4 linked regions of the Homo sapiens genome follow. The protein of the gene in region 2 purifies or fractionates together with the protein of the main gene of each other region. This does not show direct contact. Each region holds a gene or a part of one and is shown on either strand. Other genes may lie near its edges.

The links.
Region 1: the proteins of EDA2R (region 2) and ATP2B4 purify together in Homo sapiens (affinity purification with mass spectrometry; 3 studies listed by BioGRID and IntAct, with this or other methods). This does not show direct contact.
Region 3: the proteins of EDA2R (region 2) and TK1 purify together in Homo sapiens (affinity purification with mass spectrometry; 2 studies listed by BioGRID and IntAct, with this or other methods). This does not show direct contact.
Region 4: the proteins of EDA2R (region 2) and HSDL1 purify together in Homo sapiens (affinity purification with mass spectrometry; 3 studies listed by BioGRID and IntAct, with this or other methods). This does not show direct contact.

The regions. Positions count from the first base shown.
Region 1 is NC_000001.11:203,741,823-203,744,613, forward strand, and holds the end of ATP2B4 (plasma membrane calcium-transporting ATPase 4), read left to right. Parts: 3' UTR 1-2,259; downstream 2,260-2,791. UniProt on the Homo sapiens protein: Calcium/calmodulin-regulated and magnesium-dependent enzyme that catalyzes the hydrolysis of ATP coupled with the transport of calcium out of the cell. By regulating sperm cell calcium homeostasis, may play a role in sperm motility.
Region 2 is NC_000023.11:66,601,074-66,608,114, reverse strand, and holds part of EDA2R (tumor necrosis factor receptor superfamily member 27), read left to right. Parts: intron 1-2,888; coding exon 2,889-3,067; intron 3,068-3,608; coding exon 3,609-3,694; intron 3,695-5,317; coding exon 5,318-5,482; intron 5,483-7,041. UniProt on the Homo sapiens protein: Receptor for EDA isoform A2, but not for EDA isoform A1. Mediates the activation of the NF-kappa-B and JNK pathways. Activation seems to be mediated by binding to TRAF3 and TRAF6.
Region 3 is NC_000017.11:78,177,040-78,184,080, reverse strand, and holds part of TK1 (thymidine kinase, cytosolic), read left to right. Parts: intron 1-1,398; coding exon 1,399-1,492; intron 1,493-7,041. UniProt on the Homo sapiens protein: Cell-cycle-regulated enzyme of importance in nucleotide metabolism. Catalyzes the first enzymatic step in the salvage pathway converting thymidine into thymidine monophosphate.
Region 4 is NC_000016.10:84,121,641-84,128,218, reverse strand, and holds the end of HSDL1 (inactive hydroxysteroid dehydrogenase-like protein 1), read left to right. Parts: intron 1-3,490; coding exon 3,491-3,589; 3' UTR 3,590-6,078; downstream 6,079-6,578.

The sequences.
Region 1 (2,791 bases), on a different chromosome or scaffold from region 2:
AAAACAGCTCACCCAAGGTGTTAGGTTTCACATATATATTCATCAACTATTTTAGAAGATTTAATTCTATCAAATCTTGTATTACCTCAGATCATTTTAAATAGCAAGCCAATAACGAGCTTTGAAGGCTATTTTACCATTCCTGTTCACAAAAGGTTCTCATGGTGCCTGACAGGTTACCCTTGAGGGCTTGTGTCTACTTTTTAAAAGTCAATGGTTTTTTTTCTTGTGTTCTAGTTTCCATAATAGGAGAGAAAATATAGAAATATATGCAAAAATTATAGTTTTCTTTAGATCAGAAACTGATATTTTTGGGTCAGCCATATGTATTTTGTTTAAAGGATTTAAAATAAAGTGCCGTCATGTAGCCCTGTGGAAGGGAGCACATAACCAGCTGTTTGGCATGACAGGTGACTTAGTATATTTGTAATTGGTTTTAAAACCAATACACCATACTTTCTTTCTGCAAACAGCCATCTTTATACTTAGGGAAGAAAAATTGTTGGGTTCTAGACTTTTTTAATATAAATTTTGTTGATATGGAATTAGGTAAGTTTAAGTGTCTATGTGCATATGTTTTTTATATAAGTTTTTTCTATTCAGTTTCACTGATCCAACTGGCAGTGGGTAAATATGGCATAAGTTAATAACACTTTTCCCCAAAATGGTGCTTTGGATTTGAAAAGGGTCTGATGGGGAGAAGGAGAACGTATCATCCTAGCTTCCTCTCTTAATAAACCTAGAAAAACGGGTAGTAAACTGTGGATAGTCAGGAAAACACCCAGCAAGGGACACAGCTGTCAGGAAATGAATCTTCCCCCCAACCCCCACCATGCAGATGGATAGACAGAATCTTTCCTGACTAGTCATTAGGATCAGGGGCCTCTGTTGGATTTGTGTTTCTTGAAGAATAGCTGGCAGAGTGGTATAAAAGACACGAATATCTCCTGGTCTATAAGGATACTCTGATTTGGGGTTTGCATTTTTCATGGTTTTTATTTCCTGTTCCCCCTGGAGTTTTCCATTAGTGAGTTTTTGTGCAAGGATCTTATTTGTGATGCCTTCCCTCCCCTAGAAAGATTTTGTGCAATATATTAAATGGGGACAGAATTCTAAATGGATAAAACAATGGCTGGTTCTAGCCCTGAGTGACAGTCTTAAGGCTAGATCCTTCCCATAGTATCATCTGTCCTCTGGAATGACTCTCCTGTCCCTAAAGGGGTTAAGAGAGAGATCACCTAGAAATCCCTCTGGACACTTGTGGGTTCTTTAGGGTTTGAGTTTCTTCTTCCCCTTGAGCTTCAGAGAGGAGAGTTGGCATGGTTAAATCTGAATGGTTACCTCACTGCTGAAAACCCAGAGGGGCGTGGCACACTCGCTTGTGTGGAAAAGCCTCTAAATGCATCCCTTCCTTTCTTTCCTGCTTCCTTTGCCTTACAATTGAAGCAGCCCGTGGTACCATCACAGTATGCAGAGACTTCCTCACCTTTCATATCTAGGGACCACCCCCGATGCATTGGTGAGGGTGGGCACTTATAAATGCCTGCTATTGTTAAGCCATTCCAGCCTCTTCCTCTGAATAGACCAGACGCCCTTTCACTTAGTTCAGTGCCAGTCCTTTTGCCTTCCCAACCCTGCTGTTAGGCCTGCTGTTCCCTTTGCTCTTGATTAGGAGAGATGGAAGGAGATGAGCTCCCATAACTGAATTGGCCTTTGGTTCATGTTTTCTCCCCATATGTATATATGCCATATGTGAATATGCCATATATATGTGCCAACAAATCTATCTACGTTGTTCTTTTCAAATTAGCACGCAGATAGGAATTTTGAGTTTCTTCTTCTTTTAGTAACTAGTATAACAAGCACTGGTATTTTTGTACAAAAAAGAAAAACAAAAGATTGACTATTGTGGTCTGCATGACATAAACAAACAAATGGTGATATCAAAGCAACGTATACCCCAGTCCAGTGTGTGTTGCCATAATTTGCAATTCAGCTTAACAGTGCACCCAATCTATATTTGCATTTTGATATTATTTAAGCTCTATGTACAAGGTTTTGCATGTATTTATATGGTTCTTAGGGAAAAAAAATGCTATAAACTGCAAATCTGAAATTCAAATGTGTTGTTCCACTGAGACCAGAAGAAGAAGAGGAGTTTTAAAAGGGATAATTTGTTGGAGCCAATAAAGCTTTTTGCTGATGAACAGAAACCAATACTGCTGTGCACTGAGAATAAAAACTCATGCCCACTTGTAACTGTGCTGTCCTCAATGCGTCTCCACTTTTGGGTAATGCCACTGATTGTCTGTTGAAGTTGAGAAGGGAAATGCCGCAACCACAAGGACAACCCCATTTAAACAGGCACAGAATTCAGCTTACCACCAGACTCTGACAACGCTTCCCTTCCCTCTGGGCCTTCGCATTGGCTTCATTCCCTTGCAGTGCAAGCTGTGCTCCACCCACCTTGGTTAGAATCCACAGTTCAGGAGCTGGAGCTTTTGGAAGAATAAGAAAGAGGCAGTCTTGGCAGTCCTTGCTTTTTTTCTTTCCTTTTTTTGTTTTTTGTTTTTTTTGGTTTTGGTTTTGGTTTGTTTTATATGAAATGTCTTTTAGGAGAAGTAGTTTCCCTTACATTAGCCGCCTTTCCCTTGGGTTCTCCACCCTCCCCCTCACTTCCCTATGGTTTAAAAAATGTCTTTCATTAATTGAGTCTTGCTAGAGACTCATATTAGGCCCCAGTTTCAGGTCAAAACAGCTTCCTGGCAGGTCATTTACATTCTGAGCTTTC
Region 2 (7,041 bases):
TTTACCTACTCAAATTCTCTAGTGAAGTTTTCATTTCATTTATCTTACTTTTTAGCTCCAGTATTCATGTTTGGTTCCATTTTACAATTTTTCTTAACCAATATTCTCACTTTGTTTATACATTTGTTTCCTGATTTCTTTTAGTTCTTTGTCCATGTGTGTCTTTGAGCAAATTTAAGACAGTTCTTTTAGTCTTTGTCTACTAAGTGCAATGTCTGGGCTTCCTCAAGAATAGTCTCAATTCTTTCTTTTTCTTGTTCCTTTGAATGGGCCACACTTGCCTGTTTCTTTTTACACTGTGTGATTTATTTTTTTGTTGTTAAAAACTGGGCAGTTTTGTATTGTAATGAAGTAACTCTGGTAGTCAGATTTCCCCTCTTCCTGTTTTACTTTTGGTTTTGGTTTTGTTTGTTTGTTTTCTAGATTTGTGTTGTTGAAGGCTATAGTAGTCCATCTGTTGTTGTTATTATTATCATTATTGTTATTATTATTATTTTGTTTGGGACTGGGTATTGCTCTGTCACCCCAACTGGAGTGTAGTGTCATGGTTATTGCTGACTTCAGCCTCCACTTCCCGGGCTCTAGCGATCCTCCCATCTCAGCCACCTGAGTAGCTGGGACCACAGGTGCATGCCACCATTCCCAACTAATTTTTGTATTTTTGGCAACAAGGCTTTGCCGTGTTGCCTAGGCTAGCACTCCATTTGTTTAGGTGTTTTTCCAAACTATTTTTGTAGAGACTATTTTTTGTCATGTATCGCCATTGAAACCTATGTTAATTTAGCTCATGTTCAGCTAATGTTTGGACAGCAATTTCATTGAATGCTAAAAGTTAAAAAATGACAACAACAACCAAAAGAAAAAATAGTCACACATTACTCTCACATTTTTAGATTGGCTCTGTGCTGGGGAACTACTTAAACAGTTAGCCAGATGTGCACTTAGCTTAGGGATCAGCCTGACATGTAAGCTTTAGGTCTCCACTAGTATTTTCTGAGCATGTGTCTTGTATGCACACACCTTTCTAAATTCCTCCATGTGGATACTTTTGAATGTACTTATTTCTAAAGGAACCTCCCCCAGCTTTTGCTCCCAGATTCAGACAGTCTGTTTTATGTCTTAATCCATAATCATTGCCCTAGGTATTGTGGTTTGTTAGTTTGCCTTGCAACATTTTGAAACAGTGCCCATCACTTTTCCAATCTGCATTCTCAATCGAGTGGAACATACATAAATACCTTGTATCAGTCCTTCAAATAGCCCTCAAATAGGTTAGGACAGACATACACAGTAATTTGTCAATAAGTTTTGCTTAGCTCACTCTGGAATCAGGTACTGAGGTCTCACACTAGGAATACAGGCTGAGGCTACTTTAAGACTTCCACTACTTTAGGACTGCCACTGCTCTGGGGTGAGGGATGTAACAAGTACAAGTAAAAATAGCAGAAAACTTTCCTATTATTTTCAAGTGACCTTTTTCTTGATTTAACATTTACATGGTTGATGTAAGCCTTTGAATGTTTTCCAGAGTTCTGACAACATTGATTATGACAGTTCCTGCTTGTTTTTCTATGTTTCTGTAGGGGCATAAGAGCTTGAAGCTGCCTACTCCTCCATTTTATCTGGCTTCCGCTATCATTCTTAATATATTTATTCCAAGGTTTCCAGGGGTGTCAGCATGCACTGGAAAATGAATGTATGAAGAAAATTTAAGTATCACACAGGACATGTTTTTGAGTCAAGCCTGGGAATGGCAAACAATATTAGTATCCATATTTCATTGGCTAGAAATGATGCACATGCCCCCACTTCATTGCAGTGGGGTTAAAGAATTTTGGCTAATGGTGTTCCCAGGAGAAATAAAGAATAGGTTAAGTGAACAACCAGCCAGCTTCTGCTACAACTAGCATACAATTAATATGCTTTCACAACTAGAATTGTTTCTTTGAGAAAGAGCTGTGACTGGTATCAGGCAGGAGCCTTGTTCCTGTTGAAGTTAGGCTGTCAGATCTAAGAATCTCTAGAGAGCATTTATTTCAATTTCCTCAGTGTTGGGACTTCTGATGCCCAGAAACTGGGGGTCGGGGGGAAGGAATATGGCCAAAGTTAGTACCAGAGCTGAGACAAGAGCCAGCTAGAGTGTTTGCCTCTCATCTATACCATTGGCATTCAAACATTTTTTACCATGACCTAGAGTAAGAAATAACTTTTTATCACAACCCAATATATACTTTCATGCATTTTATCTGTAAAACTTTTATAAAACAGTACTTATGTGGGTAGTGCTTATGACTATTTGTCAAATATTTCAGCTCCCCACATTCTGTCACATTGTAGAATTGCATTTTCTTGTACCTGTTGTAGTTATTAATGATCATGTGATGTGTATGGCCAAGGACATGTGAGTAAAGCAATATGGGTCATTTCTTGGGGAAAACTTTAAGAGCTTGTACGCAGTTCACAATGTTTCAATCATAAAAGCAGAAAAATAAAGCTTCTGTAACCCCGGGTACCCCATTGAGGATGATGTACAGCAGAGTCCTCAGGAACCCCCTGGTAGGCAAATATGATGAGTGAGAAATAAACTTTTATTCTTTTAAGACACTGAGATTTAGGGTTTGACTTTTGCCATACTGCAGCATAGCCTATGCTGACTGATACAAATACTTAGCTTTACTTCATTCCATGTACTCTTATATTTGATACTATTATTCTATTTCATTCTATTTTATCTTTCAATGCTGGCTGGAAGCTAGTGAATTGGTTTTATGACTTAGTAATGGGGTTGCAAGTTGCAAAATACTACCCTGTACAGTCCACTTGTCCCACAGGTGATCCCATCTCCAAGCTCCTATAAAGCAATATTAACAACCCCCATCTGTCTACAGGATTGTGGTTATGGAGAGGGTGGAGATGCCTACTGCACAGCCTGCCCTCCTCGCAGGTACAAAAGCAGCTGGGGCCACCACAGATGTCAGAGTTGCATCACCTGTGCTGTCATCAATCGTGTTCAGAAGGTCAACTGCACAGCTACCTCTAATGCTGTCTGTGGGGACTGTTTGCCCAGGTGAGCTTGCTTTATGAGACCAAGCTTGTCTGGGCTTTTCTAGCTGTTGGAGGTTTCTCCCATCCTCACCTCTCAGAACTTAGTCGAAATATTCTTCTTATAAACATAATATTCAGTTTAAGCTCCCAGAAGAGAGAAGTGGTGTCTTCCCAAGATACCTCTATAAAGTGCTTAGCACATTGTCAGTCACAGATGAGTACTTGACCGCTTTTCCATCATCACTCTCAGCTGAAGACCAAAGTTCAAGGTAAATCTCACTGTAGACTTAAAAGAAGTTATGATGTACTTGGTATCAAAGCAGTGCACCCCTCTCTTGTGGAATTAGGTCTCCTTTTGGCTACATGGTGTCATGAATGGGGGAAGAAGTAGAGTGTCTGGGTCTCTGAGTCAGAAAAAGACACAGAGGCAGATAACTCAGAAAGAGGGGTGGGCACTTACTTTCAGGTTGGCAAGATTCTTAGGAGCTGCTTTCCCAGGAAGAACTGGTCCAAGTGCATTGCTTGTTTGATCACCCTGCCATTCCTAATTGCTCTGAACACAGGTTCTACCGAAAGACACGCATTGGAGGCCTGCAGGACCAAGAGTGCATCCCGTGCACGAAGCAGACCCCCACCTCTGAGGTTCAATGTGTGTACCCAGTTCTCTTCTTCCCTTTCTCCTCATCCCATTGGGTGGCAGCAAGATAGGGTAGTAAAGACTACCCATATCCCCTCATACCTTTTCATGTAGAGTAGAGTGGCAAGGGAATCAGATTAGAAGTCTGGTTTTACAACATATTATCTTTGCAACTCTATGCAAATCATTCAATCTCATTGAACCTCATTTCCTACTTCTGAAAAAAGGGTGAGTCATGATAATCATTTTTCTTCATACCTTGTGTGATGGGTATCTAGGTCTAATGAGAAAATGGATGTTAGGAAGCACTTCACAAATTATAATATTTGTAAACCTATGAGATATTATTATTATATGAAGTATATAGGAGCCCCTAGGGCTGAGGACTTGTAAGAGGCTGAATGAAGAACTAGGGTCCAATCTATGCCTATACCACTATCCATTTATCTAATCGTCTATCTTTTTTGTCTACCATCTATTTACTTACTTCCTATTTTAAAATTATTGACATATTTTTTAAATCATGAAAGTTTTCAAACATGTAGAAATATTTTTAAGTGCAGAAAAATATAAAATTAAAATGCAATCACCCAGCATCTATCCAAAGTTAATAAATCATAGCATTTTGCATATTTGCTTCAGATGTTTTAAAAGAATAAAGATTCCACAGATATAATGGAATTCTCTTCTAGATTCTCTCAGAGTCCTATTACCTCCCTACCTCCTCAGATACAACCACTATCCTGAAATTGTATGTATTCTGTTGGTAGGCTATGCTAAAGTAACAAACAAACTGCAAAATCTCAGTGACTTTATACAATAAAAGTTTATTTTTTTTTTACTATGCAAAGGCCTTCCTACATCATTTGACTGTGCATTCTAGACCATATGTCTTCCAGGTCAATGACACAGGGGAAGAGATGGAGGAGACATACTGGTTCTTAACTGCCTCAGTCTGGAAGTGACACATGTTATTTCAACTCACAGTTCATTGGCCAGAAGTACTCTGATGGCCTTACTGCAAGGGTGTAAGGGAAATACATGGGAGTATGTGGATAACTGGTGAGCACTATACCTCTGCCATACTCTCCACTAATGTTTTAATACTTGGGTTCTTTTGTGATATGTGTGCATATTCATAACCAATATATGCTATTGTTATGTATTGTATAATGTTTTATAGAAATGATATCAAGCTATATGTTCTGTTTCTCCAACTTCCTTTTTCCCCCTCTAGATTATTTATATTGATCCATAAAGGCCTTTAAGTGCTGTATAATAATGTAAGATTTTAGGATTATATCATGATTTGTTTATCTTGTGCTCTACTGATGAATTTTTTAGCTTGTTTCCATTGATCTGGATTATATAATTAGATGTGGCACAGAAAGATCACAGGATATGTGCATCTTCGATTAATTGTACTAATTTCTACATACCAGCACTATATACAAATTATTTTGCCTTGTTCTTTATAATTTTGCCTGCTCTAGAAAGAAGTAAAACCAGCATAGCCACCCTAATTGGGGAAGGCCCTAGGGAGAAGGGTGACAGCCTGAGGAAGTCCAGGTCCAGGGTCAGGGTGACTGTTTACTGCCCATGCTAACTGACCTCCCCCATTTTTTTGTCTCACAGGTGCCTTCCAGTTGAGCTTAGTGGAGGCAGATACACCCACAGTGCCCCCTCAGGAGGCCACACTTGTTGCACTGGTGAGCAGCCTGCTAGTGGTGTTTACCCTGGCCTTCCTGGGGCTCTTCTTCCTCTACTGCAAGCAGTTCTTCAACAGACATTGCCAGCGTGGTAAGGGTGGCTGTTTCATGTTTCACATGAATCAGGAACAAGGCTCTTATTGGCAGAAGAGAGGGATGTTCTGGGGTTGAGAGACAATGGGCCTTTTCTACCATGCTTGAAAACCCCATGAATAGTCTTCTGTTGGCCTGGGGAACTATCTGGGGCTGCAATGGAAAGCATGGGACTTAAGAGATTACTGAAGCCAACCCTGAGAGTTTAGAAGACCTGGTTCATTATGTTTCAGGGGATTTTAAAGGAATGTGGCACGGTGGGAAACCCCTCAGGAAAGGAATCGGGAGACCTAGGTTCTATGTCTACCTCTAAATCACCGTGTAACCTTAGACAAGTCATCTAGCCTCTTCAGACCTCTTTCTTCCTAATCTTTAAGATAAGAGATAGGATTGGATTTGTTGATTTCTGGGTTCTTTTCCAATTCTTTATATCTATACTAGTAGGTATAAATTCTAGAGCATGTCATGAATTGAGGAAGGCTTGGCTATATCTGAGATACGACTGTAATAAAAGTGGTTGAGGTCTAAGGCCACTGCTATCAGTATAATAACTTCACAAATGGGGATAACTGAAAGCCCTATGTCCAGAGTAGTTGGCAAACCTGGACTTTCTCCCTCAGATAATACTGATGTCAAGAGGTCTAGCCCAGTCCATATCAGACAGCCATGCAAAATTCCAGATGGAAAATCATATTTAAAGTCACAGTAACATTGTGATCTCTATTAAGCACAACTTCAGCTACTAGACAAGAATGTGGGACAGAAAAGCCAGCTCACTGAGGACAAAGATGGGGGAGGTGGGAATGTGGCTGATCAGGACCAGGCAAAGAGTTAGAACTCCAGCCAAGAGTACCAAGGTTCAGTGCAGCTTCATTGCCATTAAGGGAACTGAGAGTTAGGCAGGGACACTGAAACAGGAACTCAGATCAGAGAATGAAGTTGATTTATAAGGGGGAAGATAAAGTTTACTAGATAAAAGAGTGCTCAGGACTCCTTTTCAGCCCACTGGATACTGTGTGCAAAGCTGCAGTATTTGTGTGGGAAGATCCTGCTAATGTAAATTTGCCTTGGGTCAGTTTGGCTCTGGGGCCTAGCAGATGATCTTGAAAAGCCCAAGAGGTATGTTTGGTTGTGCCCTGGCTTAATTGGAGATGAATATAGCATTTCATGGGCTGCAGGATACACGGGGAACACTGTTGTTCCTTTATGATTTTTCTCAAAGTCTACTTCTTGCTAGCTCCTGGGACACTGTGACTCAAGGTAGACCTTCCTGTCTCTGACTTTGGAGGCCAGTGTCCCAGATAAGAGTTGTTGCTTAGGCCCTGGGTGCATGGACATGAAACATGAGCAATGAAGCATTTGGACTCCAGGGTCCAGAAGATGAAAATGAGAAAATATCAGAGAGCTGCCTCAGAAGAAGAGAGATGGGTAACCCTTTTCTGCTCTCCTTCTATCCTGAAGATAATAATGTGGTAACCTGCTTGGAATATGAGGGCAGGCAGTTTCCTCACTGTTTTTATAAGGGCTAGGAAGGCTAGACATTTTCTTACTTTGGAA
Region 3 (7,041 bases), on a different chromosome or scaffold from region 2:
GTGGTGTTACACCTGGTGGGGACAGGGAAAGCAGAGGAGGTCACTTCGTTCCAGCTGTTGGAAGTACAACTTCTGGAGTCAGTCAGATCCGGGATTAAATATGAGTTCTGCCCGTGTGTCACAAGTCATCTCTAACACGGGCCACAGAGGCCAAGGCTGGGCCAGCAGCATTGATGGCTCGAGAGGCTGCCCTTGCAGGGGCCACAGCTGGCCTCCCACCTGCCCTCACTTTGTCTTTCTCTGTTTAGGGAGGGAAGAGGGAATTTAAAATGCCCAAAATACTGTTTCACACATTCTTTCCAGAACTCGAAGTAGGATTATAGCAAGGTAATAACGAAACAATAGTTGTAAAGTATGTTTTTTTGTTTGTTTGTTGTTTGTTTTTGGGACAGGGTCTCTCTCTGTCACCCAGGCTGGAGTGCAGTGGCTCAATCATAGCTTACTGTTACGTGACCCCAAACCCTTGGGCTCAAGTGATCGTCCCACCTCAGCCCCCTGAGCAGGTGGGACTACAGGCGCACACCACCACACCCAGTTAATTTTTACATTTTTTTCACACAGTGTCTCGCTGTGTTACCCAGGCTGGTCTCGAACTCCTGAGTTCAAGTGATCCTCCCGTCTTGGCCTCCCCAAAGATTACGGGCATGAGCTGCTGTGTCTGGCCAGAATACAGGATTTTAAAAATTTATGTTTTGCAACATAATTAATATAAAGACAAATATAACCCAGGCCCAGTTCTAGTTATTCATTCTTCTGAATTTTAAAAGGAAACATTTGGCTGGCCCCTAATGGTATCATGGGCCCTGGTACCTGATGAAGTTGGCCTAGTCTGCCCCCAGCTCCTGAACAGTGGAAGAGTTTTTAGTCTCATTGAGCTTTGTACTGGACATTACTAATTTCTAATCCAAAGCATCAAGTGAAGTGGCTTGTATAAATAACTGGTTTTCCTCTGGGAGGCTAAGGCGGGTGGATCACTTAAAAGTTAGGAGTCTGAGACCAGCCTGGCCAACATGGTGAAACCCCATGTCTGCTAAAAATACAAAAATTAGCTGGGTGTGATGGTGTGTGCCAGTAGTCCCAGCTACTCTTGTGGCTGAGGTGGGAGAATCGCTTGAGACCCTTGAGAATTGGGAGGTAGAGATTGCAGGGAGCCGAGATGGCGCCACTGCACTCCAGCCTGGGTGACAGAGCAAGACTCTGTTTCATAAAAAATAAATAAATAACTGGTTTTCTGGACGAGGGCCTTTCCCATAGGTGCTAACTTCTCAAAGCCCGGCTGGGTGAACACTGAGCCTGCTTTGCAGGTAGCAGGTGGTCACGACAGTGCCATTCCCTGGCCCCTGCATTGTGGCTTCTGGCCTCCCTGGCCCTGCTCACGCTCTGGCTTTCTCTTCCCAGGAACACCATGGAGGCACTGCCCGCCTGCCTGCTCCGAGACGTGGCCCAGGAGGCCCTGGGCGTGGCTGTCATAGGCATCGACGAGGGGCAGTTTGTAAGTTGGCTTGTCTTGGCATCACTCTTCCTGCCAGCTTCCGCTCTGTCCTCCCGTTTTCCCTCGCTGACTTGGAAGTTATCTGATCTTTTAGTAAAATAACAAGGTTAAATAGCTACAACTAGTGTTGGAATACCCTCTGAAGGCCCCTTTCTAGTTTCCCTGTCATAGTGTCATAGTCTTGTAGGATTCGTTTTACTTTTTTTTTTTTTTTTTTGAGACGGAGTTTTGCTCTTGTTGCCCAGGCCGGAGTACGATGGCACAATCTCACCGCAAACTTTGCTTCCTGGGTTCAAGCAATTCTCTCCTGTCTCAGCCTCCCGAGTAGCTGGGATTACAGGCATGCGCCACCACGCCCAGCTAATTTTATATTTTTAGTAGAGATGGGGTTTCTCCATGTTGGTCAAGCTGGTCTCAAACTCCCAACCTCAGGTGATCCGCCCCGCCTTGAACTCCCAAAGCGCTGGGATTACAGGCATGAGCTACCACACCTGGCCATTGTACCTTTTTAAAAATACATATATCTATTTACTGGCAAGATGCAGTGACTCACACCTGTAATCTCAGCCTGTGGGAGGCCAAGGTGGACAGATCACTTGAGCCCAGGAGTTGGAGACTCACCTGGGCAACATAGTAAAACCCCATCTCTACCAAAAAAAAAAAGAAATTAGCCAGTCATAGCAGCGCACACCTGTGGTCCCTGCTACTCAGGAGGCTGAGGCAGAAGGATGGAGCCTGGGAGGTCGAGGCTGCAGTGAGTGGTGATAGCACCACTGCACTCCAGCCCGGGCGACAAGGCCAGACCCTGTCTCAAAAAAAAAAGGGGGAGGTGGGGAGTAATGTTTGGTTTGCCTCATGGTTCCTTTTGCTTGTTTCTTATACGTTTATTTTCTTGTTGTTGAAGTACCTTTTTTAGTAGTTTTTGCAGCCAGGAGGTATAGATGGGAAGCTGCCAGTCTTTGTATGGAAATCTTTCTTTTGTCATCTAGTTTAAGCTGGGCAGCAAGAGGTAGGTTGATCTTGTGTGGGTTTGGGTTTTTTTTTTTTTTTTGAGACGGAGTCTTACTCTGTCGCCCAGGCTGGAGTGCAATGGCGTGATCTCGGCTCACTGCAACCTCTGCCACCCGGATTCAAGCGATTTTCCCACCTCGCCTCCCAAGTAGGTGGGATTACAGGCACCCACCATCATGCCTGGCTAATTTTTGTAGAGACAAGGGTTCACCATGTTGGCTAGGCTGGTCTTGAACTCCTGACCTCAGGTGATCCACCCGCCTTGGCTTCCCAAAGTGTTGGAATTACAGGCATGAGCCGCCGTGCCCGGCCTTTTTAATTTTTATTTTTTTTGAGATGGAGTCTTGCTCTGTTGCCCTGGCTGGAGTGGAGTGACGTGATCTTAGCTCACAGCAACCTCCGCCTTTTGGGTTCAAGCAGTTCTGCCTCATCCTTCCGGGTAGCTGGGATCACAGGTGCGTGCCACCATGCGTAGCTCATTTATGTATTTTTAATAGAGATGGGGTTTCACCATGTTGGCCAGCTGGTCTGGAACTCCTGACCTCAGGTGATCCGCATGCCTCAGCTCCCAAAGTGCTGGGATTACAGGCGTGAGCCACCACGCCTGGTCTTGATCTTGTTGCTTTGAAAAGTAGCAGCGCTGGTCATTGTGTTTTTGCTCAGAGGAAGGCCGCCATCTCTCTAATGTTACCTCTGGTCAGGTATTCTATCTGTTCTCTCTCAGCACAATGTGTGTAGGGGAAGCTTTGTTTCATTTATCCTGCTTTATAGCTGGTGTGCCTTTTCATTTCTGGGGAAGGAATGAAGCCATTATCACTTCAGGTATTTCTCTCCTCATCCATCTCTGAGGTGTTCTGGGTTCCATCTTCCAGAGTGTGTTTTGTTTCAGTGACTATTTTTACATCTGCTGCTCTAATTCATCATGCTCCGTTTTGTTTGACAAGTTACTGTTGGGTTATTTTTAAATTTATGCTGTTCCTTCCATTATGTTCCTGAAAATCTTTTCTTAGACTTTTCCAGATTTTTCTATTTCCTCAGGAACATATTCTGTGGTTGAGTTTCTGGGTTATTTTCTGTTATCTTAGTTTTCTTTCCTCTGCTTTGGAGATTTTATTTTTGTTAGTTTATCACAAAGAATGAAACTGAAACTCTCTCCAAGGGGTTTAGCAGACTTGACCTCTTAGGTACTTTTAGGGTTGCCTCGAAGTACACAATGTGGTGGTTTGATATAAACATAACAGGAATTTATTTCTCGCTCACAGACCCCCTACGTGGTTCCAGGCCGGTTGATGGGGAGGCCGCCCACGAGGCGGCTTAGGTCGCCCTGGCTGGCTGTATACAGACACGGAGGGGAAGAGACGTGGCGGAGCCCCTGGGTGTGAGGTTTTCATGGGCCTGACCAGAAGCTGCAAACGTCACTTCTGCTGATCTTTCAAAGACTAGAACCTGGGCACAGGGCCACCTATACGTTTAGTATACTTAGTCCAGTTCGTTTTTTGTTTGTTTTTAAAAACAGTCTTGCTCTGTGGCCCAGGCTGGAGTGCAGTGGCGCAGTCTCGGCTCACTATAACCTCCATCTCCCAGGTTCAAGTGATTCTCCCGCCTCAGCCTCCTGAGTAGCTGGGATTACAGGCTTCTGCCACCATGCCCAGCTAACCTTTTGTATTTTTAGTAGAGACGGGGTTTCATCATGTTGACCGGGCTGGTCTGGAACTCCTAACCTCAGGTGATCTGCCTGCCTCAGCCTCCCAAAGTGCTGGGATTACAGGCGTGAGCCACCACGCCTGGCCACACTTAGTCTAGTTCTATACCCTGGAGGAAGAATAAATGAGTTGGTTTGGTGAGTGCTTCGAGGTCTCTACCCGCCCTGCCTCCCAGCACAGAGCCAGGCCGCTCTGGCCTGAATACCCTGCCCGGACGTCACAGGGCCTGTCCCCTCAAAAGGCCAGTCCTGCCTTCCTGGTTCTGTTCTTGCCCAACATTCTGTATGAGTCACAGCTGCAAATTCCATTCCCGTGGGGAGGCTGACGGGTCCCTTCCCCTGTGCGGGGCATCTGCCCTGTGGAGTTGAGGCTGCCAGTGTCCGCTCTGGGTTCCCGACCACCCGGCAGCTGGCATCTCCTCCCCGCTTGGGTATGGCCATTCCGTTTCTGACCTTCAGAGGTGCGCCCCTGAGCACCCCCATGCCTCTGCGTACGTGGAGACGTCGTTGTTGCTGCCCCGTGCTTGAGGGACTCCTGGCGAGAAAGTGAGCCCAGGCTGGGAATAGGGCTGCAGCTGTTCTCTTTTGCTCCCAAACTGTGGCCTCAGAATGCATCCAGGGATTTTGCATCAGCTTTGGGGACATGGCCCTCTCAGAACAAGGAAGCTTCAGCTTTGGCAAGGCTCTCCCTCCTTCAGACCTGCCGCTGTGAGTTGTTCAATAGCTCTGTTCTCCTGGCTCTGCGTAAACCTTGTTGACAGAGGCTGACCCAGACCCCCGAGGCAGAAACCTTTCCCTTCTCCTTCCTCGACATCCAAATGCCCTGAGTCAGGAGCCAGCGTATGAAGTCCTGTCCCCTGTTCAGCCTATAGGAGGGATTTCTCGGTCTACTTCCTCCCTGGCCAGCAAGTAAAACTTGAGTTCATTCAGTGAGTATTTATTACACCCTACCCAGACATCAGCATTCTGCCCTGGCCTCTGTGTGCCCTTGTTCTCTTCAAGAAGTTCCGGGTCACCAGCCTGACCAACATGGAGAAACTCCGTCTCTACTAAAAATACAAAAATTAGCCAGGCGTGGTGGCGCATGCCTGTAATCCCAGCTACTTGGGAGGCTGAGGCAGGAGAATCGCTTGAACCCGGTAGGCGAAGGTTGCAGTGAGCCAAGATCGCCCCATTGCACTCCAAGCCTGGGCAACAACAAGAGCAAAACTCAGTCTCAAAACAAAACAAAACAAAAGAAGTTCAGGGTCTTCCCATTGCAAGCAGTTCTAGATCGAGGAGAGGGGTTCCTAGCATGGGACCCAGCAGAAGGACTGTCCTTCGCTCCTTCATTGTCTACGTGGACAGTGGATGAAGCCCAGCCGAACCTGCCTTGTTCCCGTTTTCTGGGTCAGCAGGGAAAGCCTTTCACAGAGTAGCCACCGTGCCATCCTGAGGAAGGCCCTGGGTCAGAAGCTTCTGTGCTTCTTTGTACCCCGGGCGAGACACACAGGTGCTCACACTGCTCTGTAGAAACTGTTGGCATCCAAGAGAGACTCACCTGGAAATCTCTGGAAAACCTGAAGCTCCTAGCTGGGGGTGCTGTGCTTCAGATGCTGGTGGTGGGTGGGCACCCTTGCATCAACAGCTGCACAGTGTGTGGTGGGCTTGCAGGGTCGCTTGGCAATAGTAGGAGCTCTGATTTATTTTTTTAAACTTTTTTTCTGGCTGGGCACGGTGGCTCACACCTGTAATCCCAGCACTTTGGAAGGCCTAGGCGGGCGGATCACTTGAGGTCAGGAGTTTGAGACCAGCCAGGCCAACATGGTGAAACCCCATCTCTACTAAAAATACAAAAATTAGCCAAGCGTGGTGGCACACACCTGTAATTCCAGCTACTTGGGAGGCAGAGGCACAAGAATTGCTTGAACCTGGGAGGCAGAGGTTGCAGTGAGCCAAGATTATGCCACTGCACTCCAGCCTGGATGACAGAGCGAGACTCTGTCTCAAAAAAAATAGACAAAGCCAGGCGCAGTGGCTCATGCCTGTAATCCCAACACTTTGGGAGGCCGAGGTGGGTGAATCACGAGGTCAGGAGATCGAGACCATCCTGGCTAACACGGTGAAACCCCGTCTCTACTGAAAATACAAAAAAATTAGCCAGGCGTGGTGGCGGGCACCTGTAGTCTCAGCTACTCGGGAGGCTGAGGCAGGAGAGTGGCGTGAACCCAGGAGGCGGAGCTTGCAGTGAGCTGAGATCACGCCACTGCACTCCAGCCTGGGCGACAGAGCGAGACTCCGTCTCAAAAAAAAAAAAAAAATAGACCTTTTTGTGTTTTCTGTTCTACTACACAAGTAATACAGGTTGAGTATTCCTTAACCTAAATGCCTGGGACCAGAAGTGTTTCGGATTTCAGGTTTTCGAATATTTGCATGTTCATAATATAATGAGACCTTGGGAATGAGCCCCAAGTGTAAACACAAAATCCATTTATGTTTTATAGACATCTTAGGCACATAGCCTGAGAGTAATTTTATGTATTTAGTAATTTGGACGTGAGCCACAGTTTTTGACTGTGACCTGTCCCATGAGGTCAGGTGTGGAATTTTCCACTTGTGGTGGGCGCTCAAAAAGTTTCAGATTTTGGAGCCTTTCAGGTTAGAGACATGCAATCTATAATAAGTTTAATCTAGGAAAAGTTAGGGTCTGGCACAGAGGCTCACGTCTGTGATCCCAGCACTTTGGGAGGCTGAGGCAGGCAGATCACTGGAAGTGCTGGACGGGTGGGGAAGTGCCGGGTGCAAGAACCAAGCTCTTTGACTATGGACCTCAGCCTGAGGTTGGTCAAGAGGTGGA
Region 4 (6,578 bases), on a different chromosome or scaffold from region 2:
CTCTCGGGTTCAAGTGATGCTCCTGCCTCAGCCTCCGGAGTAGCTGGGACTACAGGTGCCTGCCACCACGCCCAGCAAATTTTTGTGTTTTTAGTAGAGATGGAGTTTCACCATGTTGGTCAGGCTGGTCTCGAACTCCTGATCTCAGGTGATCCACCCGCCTTGGCCTCCCAAAGTGCTGGGATTTACAAGCGTGAGCTGGCAGGGCGTGGTGGCTCAAGCCTGTAATCCCAGCACTTTGGGAGGCCAAGGCGGGCGGATCACGAGGTCAGGAGATCGAGACCATCCTGGCTAACACCGTGAAACCCCGTCTCTATTAAAAATACAAAAAAATTAGCTAGGCGTGGTGGTGGGCGCCTGTAGTCCCAGCTACTCAGGAGGCTGAGGCAGGAGAATGGCGTGAACCCGGGAGGCAGAGCTTGCAGTGAGCCGAGATCACACCACTGCACTCCAGCCTGGACGACAGAGCAAGACTCCGTCTCACAAAAAAAAAAAAAAAAAATACCAGTGTGAGTCACTGTACCTGGTCCGAATTTTTTTTTTTTTTTAATATTCGGAGTTTTCTTAATTATCAAACAGATATTTTTGGGACTGTTTGCATGAAGAGTATTAGATTTGCCACTACCAAATAAACATGTAAGTATATCAACAGTTAATTATGACTTTTATGAAAAGTGAGAGATTAATAAGAAGCAGTTTTGGTCGGGCGTGGTGGTGGCTCACATCTCTAATCCCAGCAGTTTGGGAGGCTGAGGCTGGTGGATCACCTGAGGTCAGGAGTTCGAGACCAGCCTTGCCAACATGGTGAAACCCCATCTCTACTAAAAATATAAAAATTAACTGGTCATGGTGGTGCACGCCTGTAGTCCCAGCTACCTGGGAGTCTGAGGCATGAGAATCGCTTGAACCCAGGATGCGGAGGTGGCAGTGAGCTGATCACGTCACTGTACTCCAGCCTGGGTGACAGAGCTAGACTCTTATCTCAAAAAAAAAAAAAAAAAAAAAAAAAGAAGAAACAGTTTTATTTAAGTAGTTGTTTCCAGGTCCTTTAATTACTTGAGAAAAGCAGAGAAACCTAAAAAGTAGTCTTAGAAGTCACTGACCATAAAATTTTTTTAGAAATAAAGATATGAGGATCAGGTTTAGGTGCAGTAGATGTTTTGACTGTGTTTATAAAACACGAACAGTTTACTCAAAATTAAATTTTGTTCACATTGATAAACTTTCCTTGAGAATGTATTTTTCTGCCAAGAAATTCTGTTAAGCTGATTTAATTCCTGGAGTAGTTTTCTGTATAAAGTTGTTAAAACTTTCTGTTTTCATTTTATGTTACTCAAATTATTTTCAACACTATCATTTTTTATTTCCAATTTTACATCAAAGATTTGATTCATCCTTTGCTGTTTTGTCCATGGCATATTTCTCTGATAGCTTTTGCTGCTGTGATTTTGTTCACAAAGTGCGTGAGTGTGTGTGTGTGTGGGTGTGGGTGTGTCCTCCCTGGAGAGTAACCTGTGTCCATTTATTGACAAGAGGATTGAATGACCTCTATTATCATTCATCAGTTCAGTTCAAGACTAGAATGTCAGTACTTGCCAAGGGCCTGTCTCTCTTCTCTTTCGTATACACGGTGTTAGAACTTTCATTCGGTTCTGAACAAATCTGTTAGAGGAGTGTAGGCTTTCTCCACCTCAGCACTGTTGGCATTGAGAGCAGGTAATTCCTTGACATGGGGAGCGTCCTGTGTATTGTAGGATGTTGAACACCATCCTGGGCCTCCACCCACTAGATACCAGTAGCATCCACTCCCAGTGTGACGACCAAATTTGTTTTCAGACATTGCCCTATGTCTGCTGCTAGCACAAAGGCCCTGAGTGAGACCCTGAAGCAGAGCAGCATCAGCAGGACTCCCTTCCCTGGTCCCCTGAGCACCCCCATCATAGGTCAAGATACCATCCCAAGGTACTGGTGTTTCTGACCTGTTTTCTTGTTGAACTTTGTTCCATACTACCCCTCAAGCCCCAGTTTTCTCATAGAGTACTAACCACGTATGCGTCTGTCTGTTCCAACTGATTTATTCCTATAATGATTTTGTGGTGTTTTTTTTTTTTTTTTTGAGACAGAGTTTTGCTCTGTTGCCCAGGCTGGAGTGCAGTGCCGCGATCTCGGCTCACTGCAAGCTCCGCCTCCCCGGTTCACACCATTTTCCTGCCTCTGCCTCCTGAGTAGCTGGGACTACAGGCTCCCGCCACCACGCCTGGCTAATTTTTTGTATTTTTAGTAGAGATGGGGTTTCACCCTGTTAGCCAGGATGGTCTCGATCTCCTGACCTCATGATCCACCCGCCTCGGCCTCCCAAAGTGTTGGGATTACAGGCATGAGCCAGCGTGCCCAGCCGATTTTGTGGTTCTTAACCAGTGAACATTTTGTTCATATCACGTTAAGTAAAGACAGAATTGTATTTACATGCAGGACAGTCCAGCCTCATTACAGAAAGTCGGGTAGGTGGGTGGTGGTCATGTTTCTGTTCCATGTAGAATCTAGGGTAAGATCTTAGGCAAAAGTAGGTATTCAGTACAGTAGTACCTGGAGGCTTTTTCCTTTGTTGTATTTAATGTGATTGGTGGGTATTTGTTGTGACTGGTGGGTATTTGTTGTGATTGATTGGTGGGTATTTGTTGTGATTGATCGGTGGGTATTTATTGTGATTGGTGGGTATTTGTTGGGATCGATTGGTGGGTATTTATTGTGATTGATTGGTGGGTATTGTGATTGGTGGGTATTTATTGTGATTGATTGGTGGGTAATGTGATTGGTGGGTATTTGTTGTGATTGATTGGTGGGTATTGTGATTGATTGGTGGGTGTTTGTGATTGGTAGGTATTTGTTGTGATTGATTGGTGGGTATTTGTTGTGATTGGTGGGTATTTGTTGTGACTGGTGGGTATTTGTTGTGATTGATTGGTGGGTATTTGTTGTGATTGGTGGGTATTTGTTGTGATTGGTGGGTATTTGTTGTGATTGGTGGGTATTTGTTGTGATTGATTGGTGGGTATTTGTTGTGATTGCTTGGTGGGTATTTGTTGTGATTGGTGGGTATTTGTTGTGATTGGTGGGTATTTGTTGTGATTGATTGGTGGGTATTTGTTGTGATTGCTTGGTGGGTATTTGTTGTGATTGGTGGGTATTTGTTTGATTGGTGGGTATTGTGATTGGTGGGTATTTGTTTGATTGGTGTGTATTGTGATTGGTGGGTATTTGTTATGATTGATTGGTGGGTATTTGTTGTGATTGGTGGGTATTTGTTGTGATTGGTGGGTATTTGTTGTGATTGATTGGTGGGTATTTGTTGTGATTGGTGGGTATTTGTTGTGATTGATTGGTGGGTATTTGTTGTGATTGGTGGGTTTCATGTGCTGGTCTGTGTACTTGTTCCTTCAGTGTTGATTTTGGGTTCTAACCTTACAACCTTTTTCTCTTTCATTTTTAGTTTCTTTTTGCACAGTATATGCCTGAATGGCTCTGGGTGTGGGGAGCAAATATTCTCAACCGTTCACTACGTAAGGAAGCCTTATCCTGCACAGCCTGAGTCTGGATGGCCACTTGAGAAGTTTTGCCAACTCCTGGGAACCTCGATATTCTGACATTTGGAAAAACACATTTAATTTATCTCCTGTGTTTCATTGCTGATTATTCAGCATACTGTTGATTCGTCATTTGCAAAACACACATAATACCGTCAGAGTGCTGTGAAAAACCTTAAGGGTGTGTGGATGGCACAGGATCAATAATGCCTGAGGCTGATTGACGACATCTACATTTCAGTGCTTTTTCCCTAAGCTGTTTGAAAGTTACGCTTTTCTGTTGTTCTAGAGCCACAGCAGTCTAATATTGAAATATAATATGATTTGTCAGGTCTTATAATTTCAGATGTTGTTTTTTAAGGGAAATTGACCATTTCACTAGAGGAGTTGTGCTGGTTTTTAAATGTGCATCAAGAAAGACTACTGAAAAGTATTATTTTGTAACTAAGATTGCTGGTACTATTAGGAAAAATCTGTGTGTATTGTATAGCTCTAGCTGTTTGACTATCTGTAATGAAAATGCTGCACTTCAACTGGTATTTCATTAGAGAACCGTGTGTGTGCGTGTGTGTGGTGCCTTTGAGCAACTTTATTTATGGTTACCATATTTTTAAAAAGATTTTTTGTCAGGGTGACTTAACATGGACTCTTATAGGGTATTAAAACAATCTAGATTATTCCTTTTCATCCTAAATAAGCCTACCAAATTTCATGCTGTTGGTTTGCCATGAATGATATTACTTCCTACATTATATTTGTGTTTTTTCAAATCTGCTATGGAATGAACTTATTCCTAGATTTGGATATGTAAGAGAAACCTGCAGTCATCTTTTGATTTATAAGGCAATTCTTGTGGATAAATAGTGATTTCTCAGCCTCTGACCCATTTTATAACTGAAATTTAGCCCTTTAGAGCTTGTTATATCTGGTTTTCCTACGTTTTTCTATGTAATATTATTCCATTCCAGTAGCATTATTGATAGAAATAGTAAGTATTTATGGAATAGTAAAATATGGACAAATTACGTGTGTGACATATCTGTCAATATAAGTTAGAAGCTTATTCTTGGTTTGTGTAATGAATTTATGTATTGTAGTGAATACCTTTACTGGTGTGAAGATAATTATGCACAAACCCTCACAATACGCGTTAACATTGAAACCTGTGAAATGTCCTTAGTTTGGGTCATATAAAGCCAACCATTTTTGAGGACCATGTACCTAGTGCTTTGAAAACTCTAAGTCACTATATGAATATGACAATATGTGCACATTTAAAATTCAGAGCTCGGCATTGTGATACTGATGCAGAAGCTAGTAGATTGGTTAAAAGTCTGGACTTCTGTGGCATTTTTTTCGTGACGTGATAATCTATCATAAGCAGACCTAAGCACAGTTTTATGAACACAATTTTGCCCATGACATTGCCTACAGGATTTCCAGATGTGACTTGCACTCAGAAGATCAGTGGTCAACTTCAGAAGCTCTTCCACGCTTAGATCATGTCTTCAGAACTTAGATGTGAAAATCTACACACTGGGAGATGCTGTGAGCCCCAAGGTTTTGATGGAGTTTGCTTGGAATCCTCTTGACTTCATGCCACATTGACGTGAACTTTGATGTATAATAAGCAGCAGCAACTTCATGTGAAAATATGGTCAGGTAGTTATATGTAAGGTTACGTGGTCCAGTAATGTCTTAGATTGATAAATTAGGTATGGAATCCATCAGTGTTACGTGATGAGAATAGGTGAACACACCTTGTCAGTGATGATGTAAACTTCTCTCCTTGGCAGGACATGGGCAAACATGCTGATTGGTGCAAATGTGGTGCCGAGCTGTCCATAGCTGCAGTGAAAGATGAAGAGCAAGACCTTCTCTAGGTTTTCTAGCTTTCATTAAATGTATTTTTTTCCCCAGAGCTAATTTGAAAGTTGATTGGACCACTGTGGATGGGGTGTCATTAAGAATGTGGGAAATAGGGGCCGAGTGCGGTGGCTCACACCTGTAATCCCAGCAGTTTGGAAGGCCAGGGCAGGTGGATCGCTTGATCCCAGGAGGTCGAGACCAGCCTGGGGAACACATCCTGTCTCTACAAAAAATACAAAAATTAGCCAGGCAGGGTGGTGCATGCCTGTAGTCCCAGCTACTTGGGAGGCTGAGGCAGGAGAATTTTTTGAGCCCAGGATGCAGAGGTTGAAGTGAGCCAAGATCGTGCCACTGCACTCCAGCCTTGAGACAGAGCGAGACCCTGTCTCAAAAAAAAAAAAAGAACGTGGGAAATATGAACCTTTGAAAGTTAATCTGTGAATTGAAAGTTTAACAATAAAAGTAGTTGTTTGTTTCCTTTGGAAGAGTTTTGTTCCAGATGTTTGTAATTTGGTTGTTTGTAATTTGGAATGAGAGAATTTTTTTTTCTTAGGAGTGATTGCAAGAAATTAACATGAACAACAGTGGTCATAACTGATTAAAAGCTGACACGTCAGTAACAAAATTGTTTATAACTATGTGCCTAGTCTTTGGAAGCTACTGGGTTGACTTCTGGATCTCTTTCTCTTGGTAGGTTGAGTAAGGTGAGGATTGATTTGAGCATGGAATTTGGCTGTGTGGATGGAGATCATTGGTGATTTTTTTCCATGAGCCATTTCAGTCTTCAGGCTAGAATTGTAATGGATTCAAGAAAGAGTGGGAAGAAGAAAAAAAGGGAAGAGAGCAGATAGAGACAGCTCCTAGGAGACTTTCCTGTGTTTTCCTATCCTCAATTACTTAAAATCTAATCACATTTGGGAACCAGAGGGTTAGATGGTTATGTCCTCAAAACCTATTCCAGTCAATTTATGTCTCAGTCTCAGTATTGGCTTATGTGTTATTTATCTTTTTAAAAATTCATATATGTTTAATGAGTATAAAGCCAAGCACAGGACAGTCGTGAATTCAGTAGAAATATTCTCTGTTATTCCTGGCCGCGTGCAGTGGCTCACGCCTGTAATACCA